Linked DNA regions of Homo sapiens. The protein of the gene in region 2 interacts with the protein of the main gene of each other region in a biochemical or structural test. Each region holds a gene or a part of one and is shown on either strand. Other genes may lie near its edges.

Region 1 (10,770 bases), on a different chromosome or scaffold from region 2:
GTGTTGCTTTCAGGAAAGTTCTCTGACCTTCTCTGAATAACCCCACTCCCACAAACCGAAATGGAAATGTGTGCTCATTTATTTATTTATTTATTTATGAGAGGAAGTCTCACTCCGTGACCAGGCTGGAGTACAGTGGTGCGATCTCGGCTCACTGCAACCTCTACCTCCCAGGTTCAAGTGAGTCTCCTGCCTCACCCTCCCTGGTAGCTAGGATTACAGGTGCGTGCCACTATGCCTGATTAATTTTTGTATTTTTAGTAGAGACAGGGTTTCACCATGTTGATACTTCTACAAAATCTAATGTACACTTAGTAGCAGCACTTTGTACTTTGGATAATGCATCCTTTTTTGCTAGTTTGCCAGTCAAGTCCTGGGCTAAGTCTCACTTTTGAAGTCTAAATGCCTAATACAGTAGGTATTAAACTTGGGAGTGGGGTAGAGATGAGAAGGGGGAGTTTTAGGGAGATATATAAAGGGAATTTCTCAGTCAATAATCTAGATCAAGTGTCTGAAAACTAAGGACCTCGTGGTTATAACTGCCCCACCACCTGTTTTTGTAAATAAAAGTTTTATTGAAACACAGCCACATCAATTTCATTATGTATTATCTATAGCTGTTTTCATACTACAAGGACAGAGTAGTTGAGATAGAGACATTATGACTGGGAAAATATAAAATATTTATTATGTTTTTTACACAAAAAGTTTGACAACTCTTGTCCTAGATAATTTGGCTGCCCCAGAAATCTGCACTGTATTTATTTAAATAATAAAATGTTTATTGAACTTCAATATCTACACAAGTTTTCTCTGTACCATTCTCTAGGAGATCAAAAGGTAAAAATAATGTGATCTTTACACACACACACACACACACACACACACACACCCTTACAGTCTAGTGGAAATAATGGCTATGTTTGAAAGCAATTTCAACCAAAGGTAATGATTAAAGGATCATTAAAAGGGTGACTGCCTTATGTGGCCTGACTGTGATTAATATAAGATTAGTCAGCCTGACAGCCCTGACTGGGAAACCAGTTTGTGTTTTGCCTTGAAAGCCCCACTCCAGGTGCACTGTACTATTCTGTATTAATCAGCCCCATATGGTTGTCAGGAGGGATGAGAGTGGGTTGGATGAAAGGCTGCTTTCACAGTCCCATGTCAGGTGCAATGTGTCCAAACACCAGGTGTTTACTGGTGGAATATTTAGAAACATTCAAATCACACCTTAATTTTCTTCACTCTTCACCCTGATGTTCTTCCCTCACCAAGCCTATCTCTGCCATATTTTCTGTTCTTTATGATGACACACATGTATCTCCAGTTACTCAGAACCAAAATCTAGTCACGAATGGTTCTTTTTTCCATCCTGATATTGGCCCCATGCACTGAATTTTGAATTCCTATAAATTCCGCCTCCATGGTGACTCTTGAATCATTCTTCTCTTTCTATTTAAGAAAGTCCTTTAACTCCCTCGTACCTGGCCCACTCGTATTCTTTCTCCATTCCTTCCAATATTTTTTTTTTTTTTTTTTGAGGCAGAATCTCGCTCTGTCGCCCAGGCTAGAGTGCAGTGGCACGATTTCGGTTCACTGCAAGCTCCGCCTCCCGGGTTCACGCCATTATCCTGCCTTAGCCTCCCGAGTAGCTGGGATTACAGGCACCTGCCACCGTGCCTGGCTAATTTTTTGTATTTTTAGTAGAGTCGGGGTTTCACTGTGTTAGCCAGGTCTTGATCTCCTGACCTCGTGATCTGCCTGCCTCGGCCTCCCAAAGTGCTGGGATTACAGGCATGAGCCACCGCGCCTGGCCCATCCCTTCCAATATTTTTAAATATATTTCTTCAAGTTTAATATTTATGTGACATAATGATTATATCATTTTCTTGCTCATAGCCCTTCAATGGTTCCCACCACAATATAAAGAAAAATTAAATTAAATTTAAAAAATAAAATAATCTGTTTGGCCATTCACAAACTCGCTGATACTATTATGCCAAATATTTTACATTTCTTCCTCTTTCTCCTTTACCTACAATATTCTTTTTCCCAACTTTTTATATTCTAATCTTCCCTCTCATTTAGATTCTAGTATAGACGCTGTTTTGTAAAACCCACAGAGGTTGCTTCTCCTTGTCACCTAACATACCACTCTATCTCAGTCTTGAGCTTCAGGCCCAATATCTTACTGAATACCTCTACTTTATGTATTTAACTGGCATCTGAAACTTAGCAAGGCTAGAGAAGAATCACTAATTTTCCACACATTCTTCCCAACATCTTCTGTTTGACAAATATCTTCAGAATCATCCCTGTTAAAACCCTCAGAATCATCCCTCATTTTTCATCTTCACTCACTCAGTACAAATTTAAGTTCTCTTTCTAAACTGTATCAATTTTGTCACCTACATTCCTTCTCTACTATCATTACACTAGTCATCATATTTTGCCTATACTACTGTAATGTCACCGCAACTAGAGTCCCTGCTTTCACTCCTCGTCCTAGTACAATTACCTCTCTACATCCTAGGCAAGTTGACCTTTTGAAAAATGTAAATAAGATTCTATAATTCCCCTGGTTAACACCCTTCAATGGATTTCCCTTGCATTTAAAGTACAATCAACATCCCTTATAATCCACAAATATCTAAATAATCATACTCCATCTAGGTCCTCAACTACATTCCCTACTCGTAAGCCCCTTACTAACTGGTTTTCCTTCATGTTTTCCACAGCTCCAAACCATATTCTGTCTCAGTTACTTTATACCTTCTGTTCAACCTGGCTAAAACAGTCTTCTACCACAAGCCTGACATGCCTGATTTCTTTGGTTCATTACAGTCTTAACTAACAAGCCAACTCTTCCCAGACCACTCTCCACTACATGAATCTAGTTTTTCCTGATAACAGTAATTACTATCTCAAATGTCTAATTCACATATTGTTTTTGCATTGTCTGTCCATCTACCACTGCATTATACATTCGATCAGAGGAAAAACCTTGATTATCTTTCTCATTACTTTATCCTTAGCATCTAGAAAAATATATGGCACATACTACAAGGTAAATAAATATTTATTATTCAACATATGGATTATATTATGACACTTTAAAATGCTTGTTTTGTATTTCAATTGTTTACATATGGCTTGTGTGTCTTGTTAATCAGCAAGCTCCTTAAAAACCTAATCCATACCTGATTTATCATTAATACTTCACAATATAACTCGATATAAATATATATGTGTGTATGTGTGTGTGTATTTAAGTAGATCACAAGTCTGACAGAGTGAGATTTGTGATCTACTTAGAACATCATGTATATTTTTTTCTGAGATGGTAAAATAGGTTTTCTAGTATCTAATAGCACAACAGTGTGGTTGTAGGCAGTAATAATTTAATTGTACATATTAAAATAACTAAAAGAGTGTAATCAGATTGTAACACAAGGATAAATATTTGAGGTGGTAGATACCTCATTTACCCTGATGTGATTATTATGCATTGTATGCTTGTATCAAAATATCTCATGTATCACATAAATATATATATACACTTACTATGTACCCACAAAAATGAAAAATAAAATATTATGAGCATATTCTGTAAAACAATACATTCCACAGTCAACCATTTTACTTAATCTTCTAAATTGTGATTACAGCAAGTTCTCCTAATTAAAAGTAGAACCACAAAAATTGCTTAACATTGTTAAAACAGTAACTTAGTCTATGTCTTATGGCTATTAATTATAGTTCTAGGAAGAAATTCCTCAACTTTCACTGCTGGAAGAACAGGCAGTCAAGGAACAAAGTTGACTACTTTGTGGTCTACCTCTGTAATGTGCGTAGTTTCCTGCACTATTAACAAAGATGAAACCTCAAAATTCTACTATGGCCTTTTAAGTGTTTTTACTAATCATGTATAATTCTTCTCCATATGAGAAGGTAGTTATTACATGTCTACCCCATAAAAAGGTCCATGGTTTATCAATAGAATCTCTCTTATCTTCCAGAAAAACACAAGATCTTATGTACAGAGCTGAAATAGATATCCTTTTAGGCTTTACTGTGGAAGACTGTGTTTTCCCAAAACAAACGCTCTTCTACTGAATGCTAAATTACCACACTTAACCATAATTTCAGGGATTCCAGTGGGACTGAAAAGGATCAGAGTAAATAAGGAGCATTAAGAGTAACTAAAGGTATATGAGGTGGCTACAAAATGTCCCAACCATTGGTTGAGAACAATAAACATGCACCAGAGGGCATATCAATAGGCCTCTCACACAAAGCTTCTAGCAGTCATACGCCATAATTAATGAGCCTGAAAATTTGCTGAAGTTGGACCACTATCTGCATCAATGGAAATAAAATTTAAAAGACTCATAAAATGGTAGAGTTACTCAATTTCAAGATCTGATACACGGACCAATTTAATGTGATTATTAGAATAAACAGAAGTCAACTGCCATTGACTTTCAACCGACAATGTTATATAAATACACAAAATTATTTTAAATACTTCCATTGTAATTGTAAAATATTGTTTTCCACCAACTCAACTAAGATTATGGATTGCCAAACTGACCATATTACTGCCCGTTTCTTGGATTCTTTTCTTTTGATTATCATATGTGAGTCAGTCTTAGCCCTGTATGATTCAGCCCCCTCCTACATATTTTTCTAAATCTTATTGCATTCCCTTCTCTTGTTCAAGCCTGTTGCCTGTGGGAGTTTAATAAATGCTAGCTAATTATGATGATGCTCATTTTATTTTCCTTTACCTCCATTTACTCCTCTCTTAAATATTTCTACATAGAGTTAATCAACATTTATTGAGCACCTACTCTACAGAGGAATAGCCTTCATCAACTCCAAGAGATTGTACTCTAATTTTCTTAATTGTATTGCAAAAATTATGATTTTGTCTACCCTGTCAAAGATAGTTTTCCATGGAAGAGTGATTTTAAAAAAGTTCTTGCATGAACTATTTTACTATAATAATGTTTTCTCAATTAGGAGTTTAATCTCTTAGGAATGGGGTTTTGTCTTTGCATGTCTGGTACAGTACTAAACACAGTTTACCCATCCTAAAGAAACAAAATTAAAAGGTAGCCACTCAGAACATTCCTATAACTGTGTTGCTAAACTATCTCAAATGAGTAGGAGATATGCTCCACATTCAACAGTGAGGTCTGTGGAATCCATTCAGTCTCACCCACCCAACTTCACTCATATGCATACCTGGCTGTGTTCTAGGGGGATGAGGGGAGGTAAGAGCATCCATAGAGAAGAACAAATGACCATGATTCTTGATTTGTTTTTCTACCAAAAGTCTGGTAAAGTTGTATGTCATCTATTTATTAGACATGGCCCTTTACCACTTGAAAGCCAGGAGCTGGGCCTAGGAGCAAGGAAGATGAGAGGTCAACCTTGCATTTATGGATTCATTCTTTAAGTTACCCATGTATCCACTTAACATAAATGCACTACTGATCAGCTGTATTTTAAGAGTATATGTTGAATTTCTTTATTCAATCAACAAATATTTTTTGAGCACTTACTCTCTGGCTATCTAGGAAGGAAAAATACAAGCAAGGTCCCTGCTCTGATTGGACCTATACTCAATGATTTTTTTAACAGAATGTTTAAATCACTTCATTTATAAAAGCAGGGTGCATTCTAGTCTGAAGATATAAACCTCTGAGTATAATTTTCCTTGTTTGTCAGCAGATTTAATTTGCATTGCTCATTCTTATACTTGAAATATCTTGTTTATTACTGCCAGTGCTAAACATCTTCCCAAGGCTCTACTCCACTTGCATAAATACTTTGTACTTGTATGATCATTTATATTAGTAATCACTTTCAATTTTATCCAACAAATACACAAACTTTCTCTAGAAGGTGTAGTACTACAACAGACTCTACAAGAATGGAATCACAATATATTAAAAATAGTAAAGAATTAGCACTTAAGAAATCAATGTTGTGTTTTGCCAATGTTGTGTTTGGATGTCAAGAAATTAATTAAGCAACCATACATTAAAGTCATTAGAATGCAGAAGTAAGCTGAACTTTTTCCTCTGACATATGCATGGTGCAGATATCATGAGGTTTCATTTTAGAAAGCTGATATGTAAGAGGCAAAGAGATTCCTTGTCAAGGACTGGTATTCATATACACCTGCAAGAGGTAAACACATACCCTTACTTCAACCTTATTTCATTTTCAGAACTACTATCAAAAGAATAGAGCCACATATTTGTGAATTATTTAGAGTTATCATCAGATCTCCTGGAACTACATGCCAATAACATAACATCAAAACTTCCTGAGTTATACAGCCAACGAACACATTATCTAAATTAAATTGTTAGACAGCTTCAAACTTTTTAAAACTTTTCTCCAAAAAATTAATTTAAGTACTTCTCGCCTTGACATGTGTCAGGCACTGACACTGTAGATAATACATTTTATGTAGTACAAAGCTGGCTTAGATTTTCTTGAAAAACAATTCAGGTTTAACCTAGAGCTCAATTTTACCCTTGGCACAGCTCTCAGGATATTTTTGTCAGGGATAAAGCATTCCAGTCATTGTTCCTAATGAGCTATCCACTGCCAACTAATAACTACTTAAGTTACCAGGTATAATCAGGGGAAATCACTTTCAGGAACTCCTGAGAATTTTGAAGATTTACATACTCAAATATCTGGCACTTCTCCATACAATTTTGGATACATTTTAAATCTTGATTGGAAGGATAAACAAAATAGTGCATAATAATTTCCCACTCTGCAGAATTCACAAATTACCATACTTCTAATAACAGAGAGAAGACATCCTTCTTGTCAGCAACTTTTACCCTAACCACAAAATTTAATTCTTTCTTCCGATGAAGCAATCATTGAATGATTTACTTCTAGTGACAATATAATGTACTTGGCCTTAAGAACTGTTGTCTAAATATGTTCTAATTGATGCAAAAGCAACCTGGAATGCAAATTTTATGTATCAATTATAAAACAATAAAGCTATAATATTTTATGCTAATAAATTCAGGACAAGCAAATTTTTTGGAGTCTTTTAATTTTAGGTTGATATTACAAGCATGTCTGCTACAGCCTGTGGTGGATATTCATATATCAGTACGTTTTGTGAAAGCCGAAGGGAACCCTTGAGATGACTTAAGGGAAAATGAGAGAAAACTAAATAGCACTTCAAAATAATTTTAAGTGCCCTTTAAACTGGATTCAATATTTTTATATTCATTATTTTTTATCTTACAAATCACCTATGCAAACTATTCTAATTTCCTATTTTGAAAAATACATTGGACACTATTTCATTATGGTAATGTTATGCTTCTAGCAAGGTTTGGTGAAAGTACCAACCAATTCTCTGTCTCCAAATCTTATTAATTAAAACACTAAGAAATCATACCTTACAACCAAGTGTTCCAAAAAATGGTTTATAATAACATTCTAGTTATCTGAACTTTTACAAAATTTCTGATTGCTATTTAGACACATTAACATTAAAACAATCCTTACCTTGAAAACCTAATCTAATATAAAGACAATCACATTCACAAATGGAATCTATGTGAATGGTAAATAGGTTCATAATCTAAATCCAATTGTTGAATGTCCACATGAATCTCAAATGGACTGGTGTTTCATTATTTACTACTTTAGCTTTTATGTGAGGAACACTGGTTCCCTAGCGACTTTTAGAAAACACTTTCAGAACTTGAACAGCTTACTGAAAAAATATCTAGACTCTCAAACATTTGTATTCTTCATGTTGAACAAAAAGTCTGATGAAGAAGATATGCATCAAGAATCTTTGGAATTCAGTCATAGAATATTCTGTTTTTCTGGAATCAAAATAAATAATTCATCTCCTAAAAGCAACAGATTCTCTTAAAACCGAAGTCTTCCAATTAAACATTACTACAATTAGAAAAATTCTAAAGATTAACTCTCATTGTAAACAGAAAGAATTTAGGTTGGTTCCATGTCTTTCTATGAAAGTTTGAAATGAAAAGCCTGATTATATTTGGGCATACAAACTTTTTAGGCTTTATATTTAGGCATCTATTATTCTCAAATTTCCTGAATACTATTTCCCAAATTGTTGAACTAAATAATCTTTAAATTTAGAAAAAAAATTATGTAGTAGGATAAGATTAGGTTGGTTTCAAAATCCATATAATTATGTGTCCATCTCTTTAGGTTTTGAATTATATTAAATATCAACTAACCCTTTAAAAAGTATTCACTTTTATATAATACCAGCTGATGTCACATGATGAATAGAGAATAAAATAATTAGTATATTTATGGTTTGAGTAAAAATTATAATTCAGTTTACAAAACTGAATAAACAATTGTATTGTAGGTCTACCACATGGCAGGCACTGTCCTGGACATGAAAACACAATGGTGTCTAGACAGATATGACCCCACCTTCTCCAAGCTTTATGGTTTGTATTTTCTAAAATTTTGTATTGCCTCATACTTTGAAGTTTTAATTGCATCCTGTCTGTCTCTAAAACTCTCAACTATCCATTTATTATAAGCACATTTATAGTACTATCTCATGAGGTTCAATTTTGGGTAATTAAATATCACTCCAAGAGTGACCAAAAATGAAAAGAGAGGCAGAGAATAGCATGCAGAAAAATTCTGTAAGCAGACTTTCTCAAAATTTTATGATCTTTAATCCCCAATGTTCCTTCTAACAGTTCATATATTTTCCTGCTGATAAAGATGCAATTATGCTCAAGTAGTTTTTTGTTATTGTTGTCTGTTATATATCATAAGGCATATAAATATATTTGTTATCCAAATTCTTACTTTACATTGTACAATAAATTTTATATGTCTGTATTTGAAGAATATAGTGACTCTTATCAGATAACTGTCTTATCATAAATCACATTTTCCAAGAAAGGATAAATCACTCATCATTTAAGAAAAGATATTTTGTTTCTGTGCTTTAGAATGTGGTTATTCAAATCATTATGGAAACTGTAAACAAAATGAGTAAACTTAATCTTGCAAATAATTTTCACCTGTGGTCTCACCTCTGCTAAGGTGAAAAAACAAAACAAAAGACCCTGTATATAGCATTAGTAAATACCAAAACAAATATTAATTCTATTTCAATACACTCTGTGATCTTTTCACTGCTTAACTTGAAATACCCATATTTTTGTGTCCTAGACCACTGCTGTGGTTTAAATCTTTCTTAAGGATTGAAAAATACAAATCTGTAAAGGGAAATACTTTCATTAGAGAAGCTTACCCATATCCTTACTATTGCCACCTTTTCCAAAACACTTGCGTTTATAACAAAGCATCATCTTCAGGAGCCATTCCATTTTCTGAGAAACTTGAAATTCAACACTATTAAACTCTCTTTTTTATTTTTATTTTCACCTTTTCATAATTTTGCATAGAAAACTTTTAAAAAATGTTTGCATACTCACCTCCTCGAAAGAAAGCTAGTTTTATAGGTAGAGTAGATAGTAGAGTGGCAGAACTGATGTAATGAAATTGAAGAATGCACTTCCCTGAGGGAAACTCAGGGGCGCATGCAAAGTTTTATTGCCCTGTATTTGGCATACCAATGACAGAAATCTCAAATTGCTAAAGCAAAACAAAAAAACCTCAAACAAACAAACAGAAAGCCCTGACTACAGGGATAGTATGCCAGAAACACAACTTGATTTATGAAACCATAAAGTTTTCCAGAGTATTTTTATACATTTGATGACATTTAAACAAATGCCAAAATAATACTACAAAAATACCACTACAAAAATATCATTTAAAAAACAGAGTATTTTTATTTTTGGCTTGGGGGAGGCTTTTCTGGAATATTCTAGAATATTTTAAAATGCATTGTCACCATCAAAACACAAATTTTAAATACTCAAACCACTTTATTTTAATATAGTTTCATTATCTTTAATTACCATAAATAGCATATTTGTGAAATATTGTCAAATTATTAGAAAATAAAGCTTACTTAGAAACTTTTACAGTATTTATTAAGGCCATTTACTTTCTAAAGGAAATTTTGTCACCTAAATCATGAATACATTTGGAATGAGTTAAAAACAGGATTTTCAAAGTAGACATGTGTGCGCAAAATAAAGTATGGAGATTTACTTTAAAGTTGTATTACTCTATATTGTCATGTAGACACTTTAAAATAATTATATCATTTCCTACCATGTAATTGTATCCTTTTGAATCTGCACTGAGCAAATTATGACAAGTACAAACAGGCATGATTGAGAGAAAAGTGGTGGACAATCCCCTATGCCAAAATAAATATATTTTTAAAAAAATATAGCCCATGTCTAAATTTATTCTCAAGTTTTTGGCATGAAAACGTAACATTTGATGTGTAAATAAAATATTTAATAAGACTAAGACAGACATACTGTCCCTAGAAAAATACGTGTGTGTATGTGTGTTTTGAGTAACTTATTTATACTATGGGCATTTCAAGCTTGAAATATCAAATCAAATCAAAGTAAAACAGTAATAATAAGGATTAGAGAGGATAGCTGCTTGAATCCTTCTTTAGTGCTTAAAACTACCTAAAATTCTCAAAGATTTTTTAAAGAATCAATTCAAACAAAGTTTCTCTCCAGAGTGTTTCCACTTTGGGAACATTCCAGGTTTCAGGAATGCCTCACTCTCAGGGGAGCCAAAGCATTGTTTCTGAATTGTATCAGCAGT
Region 2 (11,486 bases):
TGGTCCCAGTCTGCCCAGTCTCCAAATTGACAGTGTAGATACTTTTCCACTTTTCTTTTCCCCAAGAGGCCTGAACTAAGTACTGTATAGGTTATCCAAACAGAAATATTTTCTTTGTATTAAAGGGACTCCTGTGAATCTAACATGAAGTCAAACATCATTTTTATGCTGTCGAAATCAACAACTTCTACTGTCTCTACTCACTCACCAACACAAACAAAATTTGAAGCTTTAAACCAGCAATGTCCAATAAAACTATCTGCAATGATGGAAATTTTCTATATCTTCTCTGCCCAGTACAGTATCCACTAGCCTTGTATGGCTATTAAGCATTTGAAATGTGGCTACTGCAACTGAGGAATGGATTTTTAAAATCGTATTCCATTTTTAATTAATTTATACTTAAATTTAAACAGACAATGTGGCTAGTGGCTATCAATAATTAAGGGTCTGAGATTTTTATCCTACTTGCAGGCTAACGAAATCAGGGTGCCACAGTTTCATGGGGATGCTGGAAGAAGACAGAAAATTCTAGGGTGAGAAACAAAGGACTATACTACTCACAAAAATATCAGTAGCAGTAGTATCAGCATAGTTGTGCCAATGTCCTGAAACTCAGTTCCCCCCATGTGATGTGAAGCAGATACTTGATGATCTGCATTGTCAGAGGGGAACCCTGAGCTTAGGGTACTTGAATCTTTTAAACTGGACAGTAAAACCTACCTGCCCTTTGCTTCAGAGGGAAAGAATACCTCTATCTTCCAAAACTATCTACCATACAAATGTCTTTAAGAGAGTCTGGGATGAAAGCAGTAAATGCCTTTGCTCACAAGACATGCAAAAGTCTGAGTGACTAATGGAGAATTGAATCCCAACATAGGGGTATCATACATATCTCTGAAATCCACTCATCTCCCACCTGCTTGAATACCTTGCTTTTAGCCACACTTAATTTCTTCCTATGACCACGGTAAGCTTCCAAATGGTTATCTTTCTTCCACCACTGCCTCCTCCCACTCATTCTCTATACAGTAGCTAGACTGCATCTTGTAACACAAATCTCATCTTGTTTCAGTCTTCAATGTCACCCACTGTCCTTAGAATTAGGCCACCCCTCCTTAGCAAGTTCCACAAAGCCAGTGCTTCCCTTGCTTGTCCGTTTAAGGTTTATGCCTTTAGCCACATTAAACTCCTCTCAGTTTCTTACATGTAGAGGTCATAAAGTGGTGGCCCTAGGTTGAATTCCAACTACAGATTTGTCTGGTTTGGCCCACAGAATAGTTTTTAAAACATTTGGGTTAGTTCATATTTGGGAGATTTCATATTTATAAAATATGAATTTTAAGCTCCTCTTTAGAAATCAAGGCATCTGGCAACACTTGGCCTGCATCCCAACCTGACAATACTTGGCTGAAATGAGTATCTACTTTTCCCTTTAGACAGCTTGGATTCTCCAGATTGCCACGCCTCTCCCTCCTGCTCTTACCTATGTATTGTTTAACATTTTCTGCCTGACTTCCATTCTAAGGCATCATGCTCCCTTTGGTCTCTTTCAATCTTCCCACCTCTTCAGCTGCTAACTACCACTCATGCTTCAGGTCTTCATGTATTCATGCTGCTAGGAAGTTTTCCTTCACCACCACCAACCCAATTAGGATGAGATGATGCACTGTGTGACATTCACCTACCCAGGACCCTGCTATCCTATCTTCTGAGGTTCTCTTCACTACCCTTATCATGGCATGAATCATATGGCATTATAATTTTTTAAAAATTTTCTTTATAAATTTATAATTCTCTGTTTACAGATCTGCATCCCTCTCTAGACCTTTCAGTCATAAGAAAGTGACTATAACTGTCTTGTATACCATTGTATGTCAGTGCCTAGGAAAAAGCCAAACGTTTAGTGTGGGCTGAATAAACACTTGTTGCATAAATGAATGAAAAAAGTTAGCTGAGGAATGGCTATTTCAAAATATTGGGGAAGAGTGTATTTATATTTTTATATATGTATTCATTTTTAAAATGTGGACCACTGAAATTCCATTCCTTCCCCCCTCCCCCTACCCTGGAGAAACTAAAATAACTACTTGAGTCATAGAGCAATAGCTGTATACTGGCAATGTGCTAAGAACCACACATGGATTAGCTCATTTAATGCTGACAACAGTCCTTTCAGGTTAGTATTTCATTATTCCCATTTTGGAGAGGTAAACATTCAACCCCAGATAAAATGAAGGCCTTATTCTCCACAACACAGTAAATTGTAGGGATACATGATGACTGAAATTTCTGCCAGGATACCTGAGAGCACATGACACCAACAGCAGCTTTATTCACAGCCCATCTTTTGAGCTATTTGTATGTGGTTTTAATAATTAGCTTTCGCATTCAAATGGTAAAGAAAGTTCTTATACACACAAGAAGCATTTATGGCTATTATACCAGATGACACGGCTTCCAGGGCAGTAAGAAGGATCTTTAATCTCATTTCACAAATAGAAAAACAAAGGTATGGAACAATAAAGCCAAGTGTAAAGTTAACATTATGTCCCTCAGGCTGCCCCTCAGCCTGCCATGCCTTAATGTGAGAGTCCAATCAAAGCCTCAAAGCCCAGTATGTAAAGCCTAATAAATTCTGCACATAGCAGATAGATAAATTCTTCCTAGGAGGAGGAAAAGAATCAGAGATGTCACTGAGTCACACAAAATACAACCTAGACAGAAAGTCAAGATCCCTGGTCAATCTTTTCCAGGTGGAATTCTTGCTCATTCTTTGCCCCAAGAAAAAAAAAAAAAAAAAAAAAAAAAAAAAAAAAAACAAAATTCTAAGTCTTTTTTTTTTTTTTTTTTGAGACAGGGCCTCTCTCTGTGGCCCAAGTTGGAGTGTGGTGGCATGATCACAGCTCACTATAGCCTCAACCTCCCAGTTTCAAGAGATCCTCCCTCCTCAGCCTCTTGAGTAGCTGGGACTACCGGCGTGCACCACCACACCTGGCTTTTTTTTTCTTTTAATATTTTTTGTAGAGAGAAGGTCTCACTATGTTGCTGGTTTCAAACTCCTGAACTCAAGCAATACTCCCGCCTCAGCCTCTCAAAGTGTTGGGATTACAGGCATGAGCCACCACACTCAGTCTCACCAAGTCTCGTAACTTTTAAAGTCAAATTTCCAGAGTCACTTCAGGACCCACCAGGCCTTAAGGTCCAGCTTATTAAAAATCTTACATTAAATCTCTGTATATTTTTTCTAGGCATTATAATTTCCTTCCTCAAGGAGTTGAGAAAAAAACTGTATGTGGGAACCACAACATACAGTTGAAGGAAGTTAGAATTAAAATTTCTATAGCTTTTAACATTTGATTAGCACATCATACATGTGTAGAATGTTTTCCTAAGCTTTCATTCTAAAAACACAGAATTCATTTTATTTCCAAGTGCACCTTGATGAAGTAGGAGCACATGGCATTTTATTTTAGAAAGCAATGTCTTAACAAACTTGTTATTTCTTCCAATTATGCAAACTCACCAAATGATTTTTTATCTATTTATTTATTTAGTTTTATCTTTTTTTGAGAGAGTCTCACTCTGTCACCAGGGCTGGAGTGTGTGGAGTGATCTCAGCTCACTGAAACCTCCACCTCCCAGGTTCAAGCGATTCTCCTGCCTCAGTCTCCCAAGTAGCTGGGATTACAGGTGCCTGCCACTATGCCCAAGTAATTTTTTGTATTTTTAGTAGAGATGGGATTTCACCATGTCGGCCAGGCTGGTACGGAACTTCTGACCTTGTGATTTGCCCGCCTCGGCCTCCCAAAGTGCTGGGATTACAGGCGTGAGCCACCGCAGCCGGCCAAATGATGATCTTAAAGGGCCTTTGATAATGCATTCTTGACCTCATTCTACTTGCCATGTATAGTCATTAGAAGACTGTTCATATAAAAATATGAAATAAAACTACATAGTCTTTAAGTTACCTTGGAAGGCCCTTCAGGACAAGGAACATACTCTATATCTTTATATCTTTAAAGCATATAGCAGAGTGCATCGCGGAATGAAAATGCCTATTAAGTCAGGAATGCAGGAACGACAGGGCTTACCATTTAATATCAATTCTAAAGCTGATTATTTATTTTTGAGACAGGGTCTTGCTCTGTCACCGAGGCTGGAGTGCAGTGGTATAAACACAGTTCACTGCAGCCCTGACTTCCTGTAAAGCTGATTTTTTAGGCCATTTACTTGCTTTATAAAGTAACTAGAATGGCATGAACTATGCTTTTTTGTGCCTGTGATTATAAACTGAAAATTTACAAACAATATGTCACATGTTATTTGAGCTAAATGTCTGATTTTACTAAAATGAAAGTATCCTTCCTGGATTATTAGAATTAGCAGTAAATTTAAGTTTGCACCTAGAAGAGAAAAGCGATTGTAAAGAATGTAAAACATCTGAAGCAAACAAAGTCCAATAAGATCTTCCTTCTACTTGAATTTCTATGACCACAAAGGCACAGGATGTAAGGTCCATAGCTTTGTACACAGGGATTGGTGGGGACGACACGATTTCAACTCTGAACCCCAATGACCAGCTCCAGGAACACATGCCTTTTAGCCCCGCAAAGCTACTGACCAAATCACCCAGAGAGATAATCACATCTCAGCCAAAGGACCTGAACTCAGACGATCAGAACACAGGACCTGCCATCAGGCAGCTGCACGAGACAAGAGACCGTGCTCAAAATCACGTAATACCCTAAGTCATCCCAAGGGAGCCCCACAACTACCCTCAGCGGCAGGCAGAGCTGACGCATATTTTGCAGATGACAACATACAGGTTCCGATGGGGCGGGTCCCAAGGCCACAGAGCTGGGAAGGTGACTGAACCTAGACTTAACTAGTATCCCAAGTGGTGGATACTTCCCATTCTGCCTTGGAGATCGCCCTTCGCCCGCGTATTACATTCGGAGGCTGGCAAAACGGCAGGAAGAGAGCAAAGCTGGGCAAGGACGGGAAAGAAAGAGGGGAAGGAATTTCCACTGCTTCCCGGCACTCGCCCCCACTCCACACCCCAGGTTGCTACTCCGCGGCGGCCTCTACTTCCCCAAACTAGACTGAAGGGCGGGCGGAGAACCGAGGAGGCTTTCTAGGCGTCACGGAGAGTTCTCCAAGTTGGGGGCAGAAAAGGCGAATGAACAAATTGTACCCCCTAGGGAGAGGGCACAAGGAGAAGTGCGGAGGTGAGAAGGACCGGAGGGGAGGACGACCCCTCACAAACTGGCCAGGGACTTAATAATGGTGATGAAGGGTCGTGAGAGAGGTTTGGGAAATGCGAGAATAGCTCAGTCCCCAAAATCCTCCCTGGCCGCATCGCTGGATCCCCGCCCCATCCCCCCACCCCCGACCCGGGCAGCCCGGGAGAAAAAGCAACAACCTCCTGGGGCACCAGGAATTGGTGGCAGCAGGATCCCGAGCCCAGGCCCCCTTCCGCGCCCCCACCCTCACCCTTGCCCTGACCGCCTCGCAGTGGCGGCAGCAGCGGCAACAACACCAACCTGCGCGACCACGGGCTCTGTCCGGGACGGAAGCCGGAGCCTGCGGGCGGCGGAGCGGCGGGCGGAGTTAGTTGGAGGCTCCGGCTCCCTGGGCGGGGACAGGCTGAGCACGCGGAGGCAGCGGCGGTGGCGGGGGCTCCCTCTCCTCGGCGTGCGCCGGGCCCAGCCGGGTCCGCCGCTCGCCCTCGACTCCTGGGGCAGGTCTCAGTCCCTCCCCGGGGGCGGCTCCCGGGCCAGCCCCGCGCTCGCCTCCTCCACGCCGGCGGCCTCTGCTCCGCCCTGCCTCTTTGGGCGCAGGGGGCGCGGAGCTTGGGAAGTGGAGCCCTGGCGAGTCCCCAGCGATTGCGCGCAGCTTCCCGGGGTTTCCCTGCGGGGGTCGCGTGTGCTGGGTGTCTGAACTCACGCGCGGGCCAGAGGTAGCCAAGAGCTGGAACTCTTGCCCAAGTGCCCCGGGGAAGGGAGTGAAGGCCCGGCCTGAAAGTCTCTGACCCTCCCGAGTCTCGTGTCCCTAGAAGCAGCCTTGCGAGGTGGCCACGCCAGCTGCCCTGAGAGAAGCAGAGGAAAATGTCCGACTCTCCCTCCGCCCAGCTTCGCGCCAGAAGAACGTTTCCCGAGAGAAGGAAGGACCCATTGACCCCCAGCCCTTGCTCCAGCCTGGAGACCTGGCTGAGTGCATGGAACTGGAAGGATGGCAGAGTACCGGGGCTGAAAGCCTGGGAAATGTGCTATTTCTATTCACACCACCCCCTTGCCCGGCCCCTGGATTCAGGCCACCTCGCTCAGGTCTGCGCAGTGCTTCCCAGTTCACACCTCCGACCCGAGGAGGGAGGTCGGTATCCCTTTCTTAGCCTGGCTTCCCGCCTCCATCTGCATCCCTTTCTGCTAAACCTTTTTAACCCGCAGAGTGCCCAGCGCGCACACACCGATCACTTCGCCCCTAAACTGCGGGCAGGGAACTCTGGAGCCACCCACATCCCCAGCCTCACCCCAAAGCAAGAGAAAGCAGGGAGCCGCGCGTGGGGTGGTGGGGGCGGGGCTGGAGAGTTCCAGTAGGAAGGTTTTATACCCAAGAGGCTTGATGATGTGCAGTACTGACCCCACACACAAATTGATATGCGTTTAATTGAAGGCAGGTATTTGCCACTGTCTCTCCCTGTCTGCAGGTAACCGCTTGAGTGCGTTCACCTCGCCTCTTCCATCCCCAGCGCCAGCCCAGCCCCCTCTCTTTCTCCCAGAGTCCCATCCTCCTCTCCCTCACCTCTCCCATCCCAGCTCCCTGCAGCGCGGGTCCCGAGCTGCTCCAGATCCCCAGCACCCAGCTCTGGTCTTTCCAGACAACTCCTCCCCTTCAGAATCTGGTGTGGTAGCAGGGAGGTTGTGAGAAGGGACACTGAGGAAGATAAAGAAGGAGAAGCCAGTGGACTGGGAAGAAGGTAGGAAAGTGCGAACCGAAGGGGTACACCGGAGAGGAGCTATGGGAAATGAGGCAAAGCCTTCAGGCTATAGGGGGATTCCCAGAAAGAAAATCATTTTCTCCATAGGGAAACTACCGATGCTCGCTGTAGACCAGTTGGAAAATCTGTTGTACACCCTCCCAACAGAATTCCTAGTGAGCAGTGGCCAGACTGGTCAGGGCCTAGAGCATGTGTCCAGGAACTCCATCCACTTCCCAACCCAAATTCCAAGGCAGGCGGATGACCCTCATTTTGGAAACTTGATTCTGAGAAGGTGCGAGAAGACACCGAGCTGAGTCTGTTTACGGATCCCGGGCTGTTCTTCATCTTTAGGCATCTCCTAAGTCACTTTATCTCTTCCTCCTGGTCTGGGTTGTTAAGGAAAGCAAGCACTTGAGACCCTCCCTCAAATACGTCTCTCCTCTGTGTGTGTGTGTGTGTGTGTGTCACAGAGAGAAAGTTTGTGGTGTGAGAGAGAGAAGAAAATGTGGAGGGGCAGGAGTTCTAGGCTATGGTGTTTTGTTTCTCTTTGTTTTCTTTCTTCAATTCAGTACATTTTTGTGCCAAGATGATTTTCTTGTTCAGTGGTGACTATATTTTTGCCTTAAATGTGGGAGAGTAGTTGGGACAACACTTCTAAATGTAACCTGACGGTAACCTCTCACACCCTCAAGGTCCTGGTGTGTCTGGAATTGGTGAGTTCTTGGTCTCACTGACTTCAAGAATGAAGCCGCGGACCCTCTCTGTGAGTGTTACAGTTCTTAAAGGCAGCATGTCTGGAGTTTGTTCCTTCTGATGTTTGGATGTGTTTGGAGTTTCTTCCTTCTGGTGGGTTCGTGGTCTCACTGGCTCAGGAGTGAAGCTGCAGACCTTCGTGGTGAGTGTTACAGCTCATAAAGGCAGTGTGGACCCAAAAAGTGAGCAGCAGCAAGATTTATTGCAAAGAGCAAAAGAGCAAAGCTTCTCCAGTGTAGAAAGGGACCCCAGCGAGTTGCTACTGGGGCAGCCTGCTTTTAGTCCCTTATCTGGCCCCACGCACATCCTGCTGATTGGTCCATTTTACAGAGAGCTGATTGGTCTGTTTTACAGAGAGCTGATTGGTCCGTTTTGACAGGGTGCTGATTGGTGCGTTTACAATCCCTGAGTTAGACACAAAAGTTCTCCAAGTCCCACTAGATTAGCTAGATACAGAGTGCTGATTAGTGTATTCACAATCTCTTAGCTAGACATAAAGGTTCTCCAAGTCCCCACCAGATCAGCTAGATACAGAGTACTGATTGGTGGATTTACAAACCTTGAGCTAGACACAGGGTGCTGATTGATGCATTTACAAACCTTGAGCTAGACACAGAGTGCTGATTGGTGTATTCACAATCCCTTAGCTAGACATAAAGATTCTCCAGGTCCCCACCAGATTAGCTAGATACAGAGTGCTGATTGGTGCATCCACAAACCCTGAGCTAGACACAGAGTGCTGATGGAGCAGGGGGCAGCGCTAGTCTAGGAGGCTTGGGGAGGTTCGGTAGCGCAGGAGCCCACAGCCTTGGGGGAGGCTCAGGCATGGCGGGCTGCAGGTCCCGAGCCCTGCCCCGCAGGGAGGTAGCTAAGGCCCAGCGAGAAATCGAGTGCAGTGCCAGTGGGCCAGCACTGCTGGGGGACCAGGCGCACCCTCCGCAGCTGCTGGCCCGGGTGCTAAGCCCCTCACTGCCCTGGCGGGCGAGGCCGGCCGGCCACTCCGAGTGTGGGCCCGCCAAGCCCACGCCCACCCGGAACTCTAGCTGGCCTGCAAGCGCCCTGCTCAGCCCTGGTTCCCGCCCTCGCCTCTCCCTCCACACCTCCCTGCAAGCTGAGGGAGCCGGCTCCGACCTCCGCCATTGCAGGAAGGGGCTCCCACAGTGCAGCGGCGGGCTGAAGGGCTCCTCAAGCGCGGCCAGAGTGGGCGCCAAGGCCACGGAGGTGCCCAGAGCAAGCGAGGGCTGCCGGCATGCTGTCACCTCTCACTGGTTGGCACAGCCAATTTTAGCTGTGCTGTCAGACGCCCAGTAGTGCACCTCACCTCAGAGCCTCAGACTTACAGCCTCAAGGCATTCCATTCTGTGTGCAGGCCAGCTTGGGCAGTGGAGCCAACCACCTCCACTTAGGTGAGGAGAAGCCTCCCTTTTCACTCTCCTCAGGGCTCCACCCCACCTGAGGTTGTCTCTGCACTCTGTCATTACAAAACTAGTCCTTAGTGTCCCAGTTTTACTTTCAAAAATACTATATCCAATTTAATTTAAAAAATCTCTTTCTCCGCCCCCCGCTTGTTTCCTCTAATGCTCAAAAGGCTAGGCCATTGAAAGTTCAAGAGGGTAGAAATTTCTCTTTTTCTTCTCATCAAAAGAGAAATAGTCCTTGAAAGAACCTTATTAAACTTATATCCTTTCTGAATATGGTAATCCCTTGGTATTGATTATTTTAATTTTATATTAATGGTATGATCTTACTGCAAAAGGTGACCAGTCAGCTGATGAGGATAAAGGGTCTAGTTTCTTCCTGGAGAAACTCTGACAGCTAAAAGAATGGGAGGGTTTATTTACAGACAGGAGAATTGGTCTCCGTCAGTGTTGCAAAGTAGATGGAGATGGACATTCCTTTGTAAACGTCTCTCTTTTTTCAGTTTTATTTCATAGCAGCCTTGTCCAACTAATACTGCCAGTTCTCCAAGTCAGTTTGCCTCACACAAAAGTGTTAGGGACTTCAGATGCTACTTCCTACTAGTGTTTGCCTTGAAAAAGAGTGACATTTCAAGCAGAAGTGAGAGAGTAAAGGAGGATTCATGGAAAATATTTCCTGTACCCTTTAAGACTTTTCTCATAGTCATTTTATGTAAAGATGGGTCTGATGGACAGAACTTACTCTGAACAACTTGGCAACTGTTCAGGCCTACAGGCTTCTTTGAAAATTAAAAAAAAAACAAATGCACACTTTCTCATTTCCCAGCACTTCAAACATGATCTAAGAGTACAGAAGGTTACATTCAAGTAGCAGAATAAGCTTCAAAATGGTTATATCAAACAGTCAAATTTGCTTATGCATATTCAGAACGACAAGAGAAAATATTAATTTCAATTTAGAAGTCATCAAAAAGCACCTTGTGGGCAATATAATGAATAGCCCCATGTTAAAGTAATACATGTTTGTTCTTTAACAAATAAATTTTCCTCTGAAATATAGACATCTGTCATGGAGTCAATTATCTTGCACAGCATGTGCTGTAAAAGCACATAAAAGCAATAATATACTACATTGCTTATTTGAAATCGATCAGGAATAGGCAGCTCCATGCTGGCATGTCTTTAATTTCATGGTGTTAAGAAAAGACTATAGAAGTATGAAATAGCAAACCCTTTCCTACTGGAGTACTAATTCAATTACCTATCATGATATATATAGGAGGAAAAATTTTCCTCATTAGCTGGCAGAAACACTATGGGACTATTTTCTCGTCTTACTCTGCTAACCCCTGTAGCGAGAGTGTGAACATAAAGTTTCCTTTGAAAACAAAGGGATCAACACACTCTGATCAGCTCCAGGGGTGTGCAGAAGAACAAAGCTAGAAATGATATTCTAAGGACATAAATTATCATTTAAATGAGGTGAACATTTATGAAATTTATGCATCAAACAGATCTCAAGATTTGAAAAGTGGAATAAGAGGTAGTTAGACCAAGTTGAACCTCCTTGATGTAATGCAAATGTGAAATCTCTTTCTCTCTTTTCTCAGGCCAACTCACATTCTCCCCTCTATCACTGCATGATGAACACATAAATAAAACAACAAAATATTTTCCAGAAAGCTCTGCCAGGTTAAGTATACAGAGCCTTCTTGAATATCCCATATTACTTTCTCTTGTGACACTTTAAAATAGATTTGAAAAAAAAAATCTTAAGGGGAATATTTTAATAGCTTCCCGGAGAGTAGAATGTATTATCGTTACAATACAAAGGGTATCATTCATTTTTAATTCCTTGCTCCACAGGTGTTCCCTGCCCAGACTGTGGTTGACACTTAGAGGGCCTAATTATGATTCATATATCCCACATTCCCCAGAAATTGGCCCCTCTAACTTCACACAATGCTGTTATTCAGAGGAGAAAAATACGTTTCAGTACTACTGGCTAGACATAATGATTCTCAATCTTGTCTACATATTAGAATCACCTGGGAAGCTTTAACAATCCTGCCACCTCAGCCCTGCCTCGGACTGGCTTCAGACCCAATAAACAAAACTCTCTGGGGGTGGGGCCCGAGGATAGGTGTTTATTTAATTCCCCAGGTGGTTTTTATGTATAGTCAGGGCAACCATCTGTAGGGTATAAACACTTAGCAAGTAAAACTATTCTTTGTTAAAATACTATTAAATATGAACTACCTACCTATTAGATGCAGTTAAACTTTTTTTTTAATTAAAAAAGTTAATTTGGTTTCACAAGGTAAGTTCTCCAT

The links.
Region 1: the proteins of PAM (region 2) and RASSF9 form a complex in vitro, tested with the Homo sapiens proteins (one study listed by BioGRID).

The regions. Positions count from the first base shown.
Region 1 is NC_000012.12:85,824,924-85,835,693, forward strand, and holds part of RASSF9 (ras association domain-containing protein 9), read right to left. Parts: intron 1-10,770. UniProt on the Homo sapiens protein: May play a role in regulating vesicuar trafficking in cells.
Region 2 is NC_000005.10:102,749,409-102,760,894, reverse strand, and holds the start of PAM (peptidyl-glycine alpha-amidating monooxygenase isoform e preproprotein), read right to left. Parts: upstream 5,591-11,486; 5' UTR 5,547-5,590; intron 1-5,546. UniProt on the Homo sapiens protein: Bifunctional enzyme that catalyzes amidation of the C-terminus of proteins. Alpha-amidation is present at the C-terminus of many endocrine hormones and neuropeptides and is required for their activity.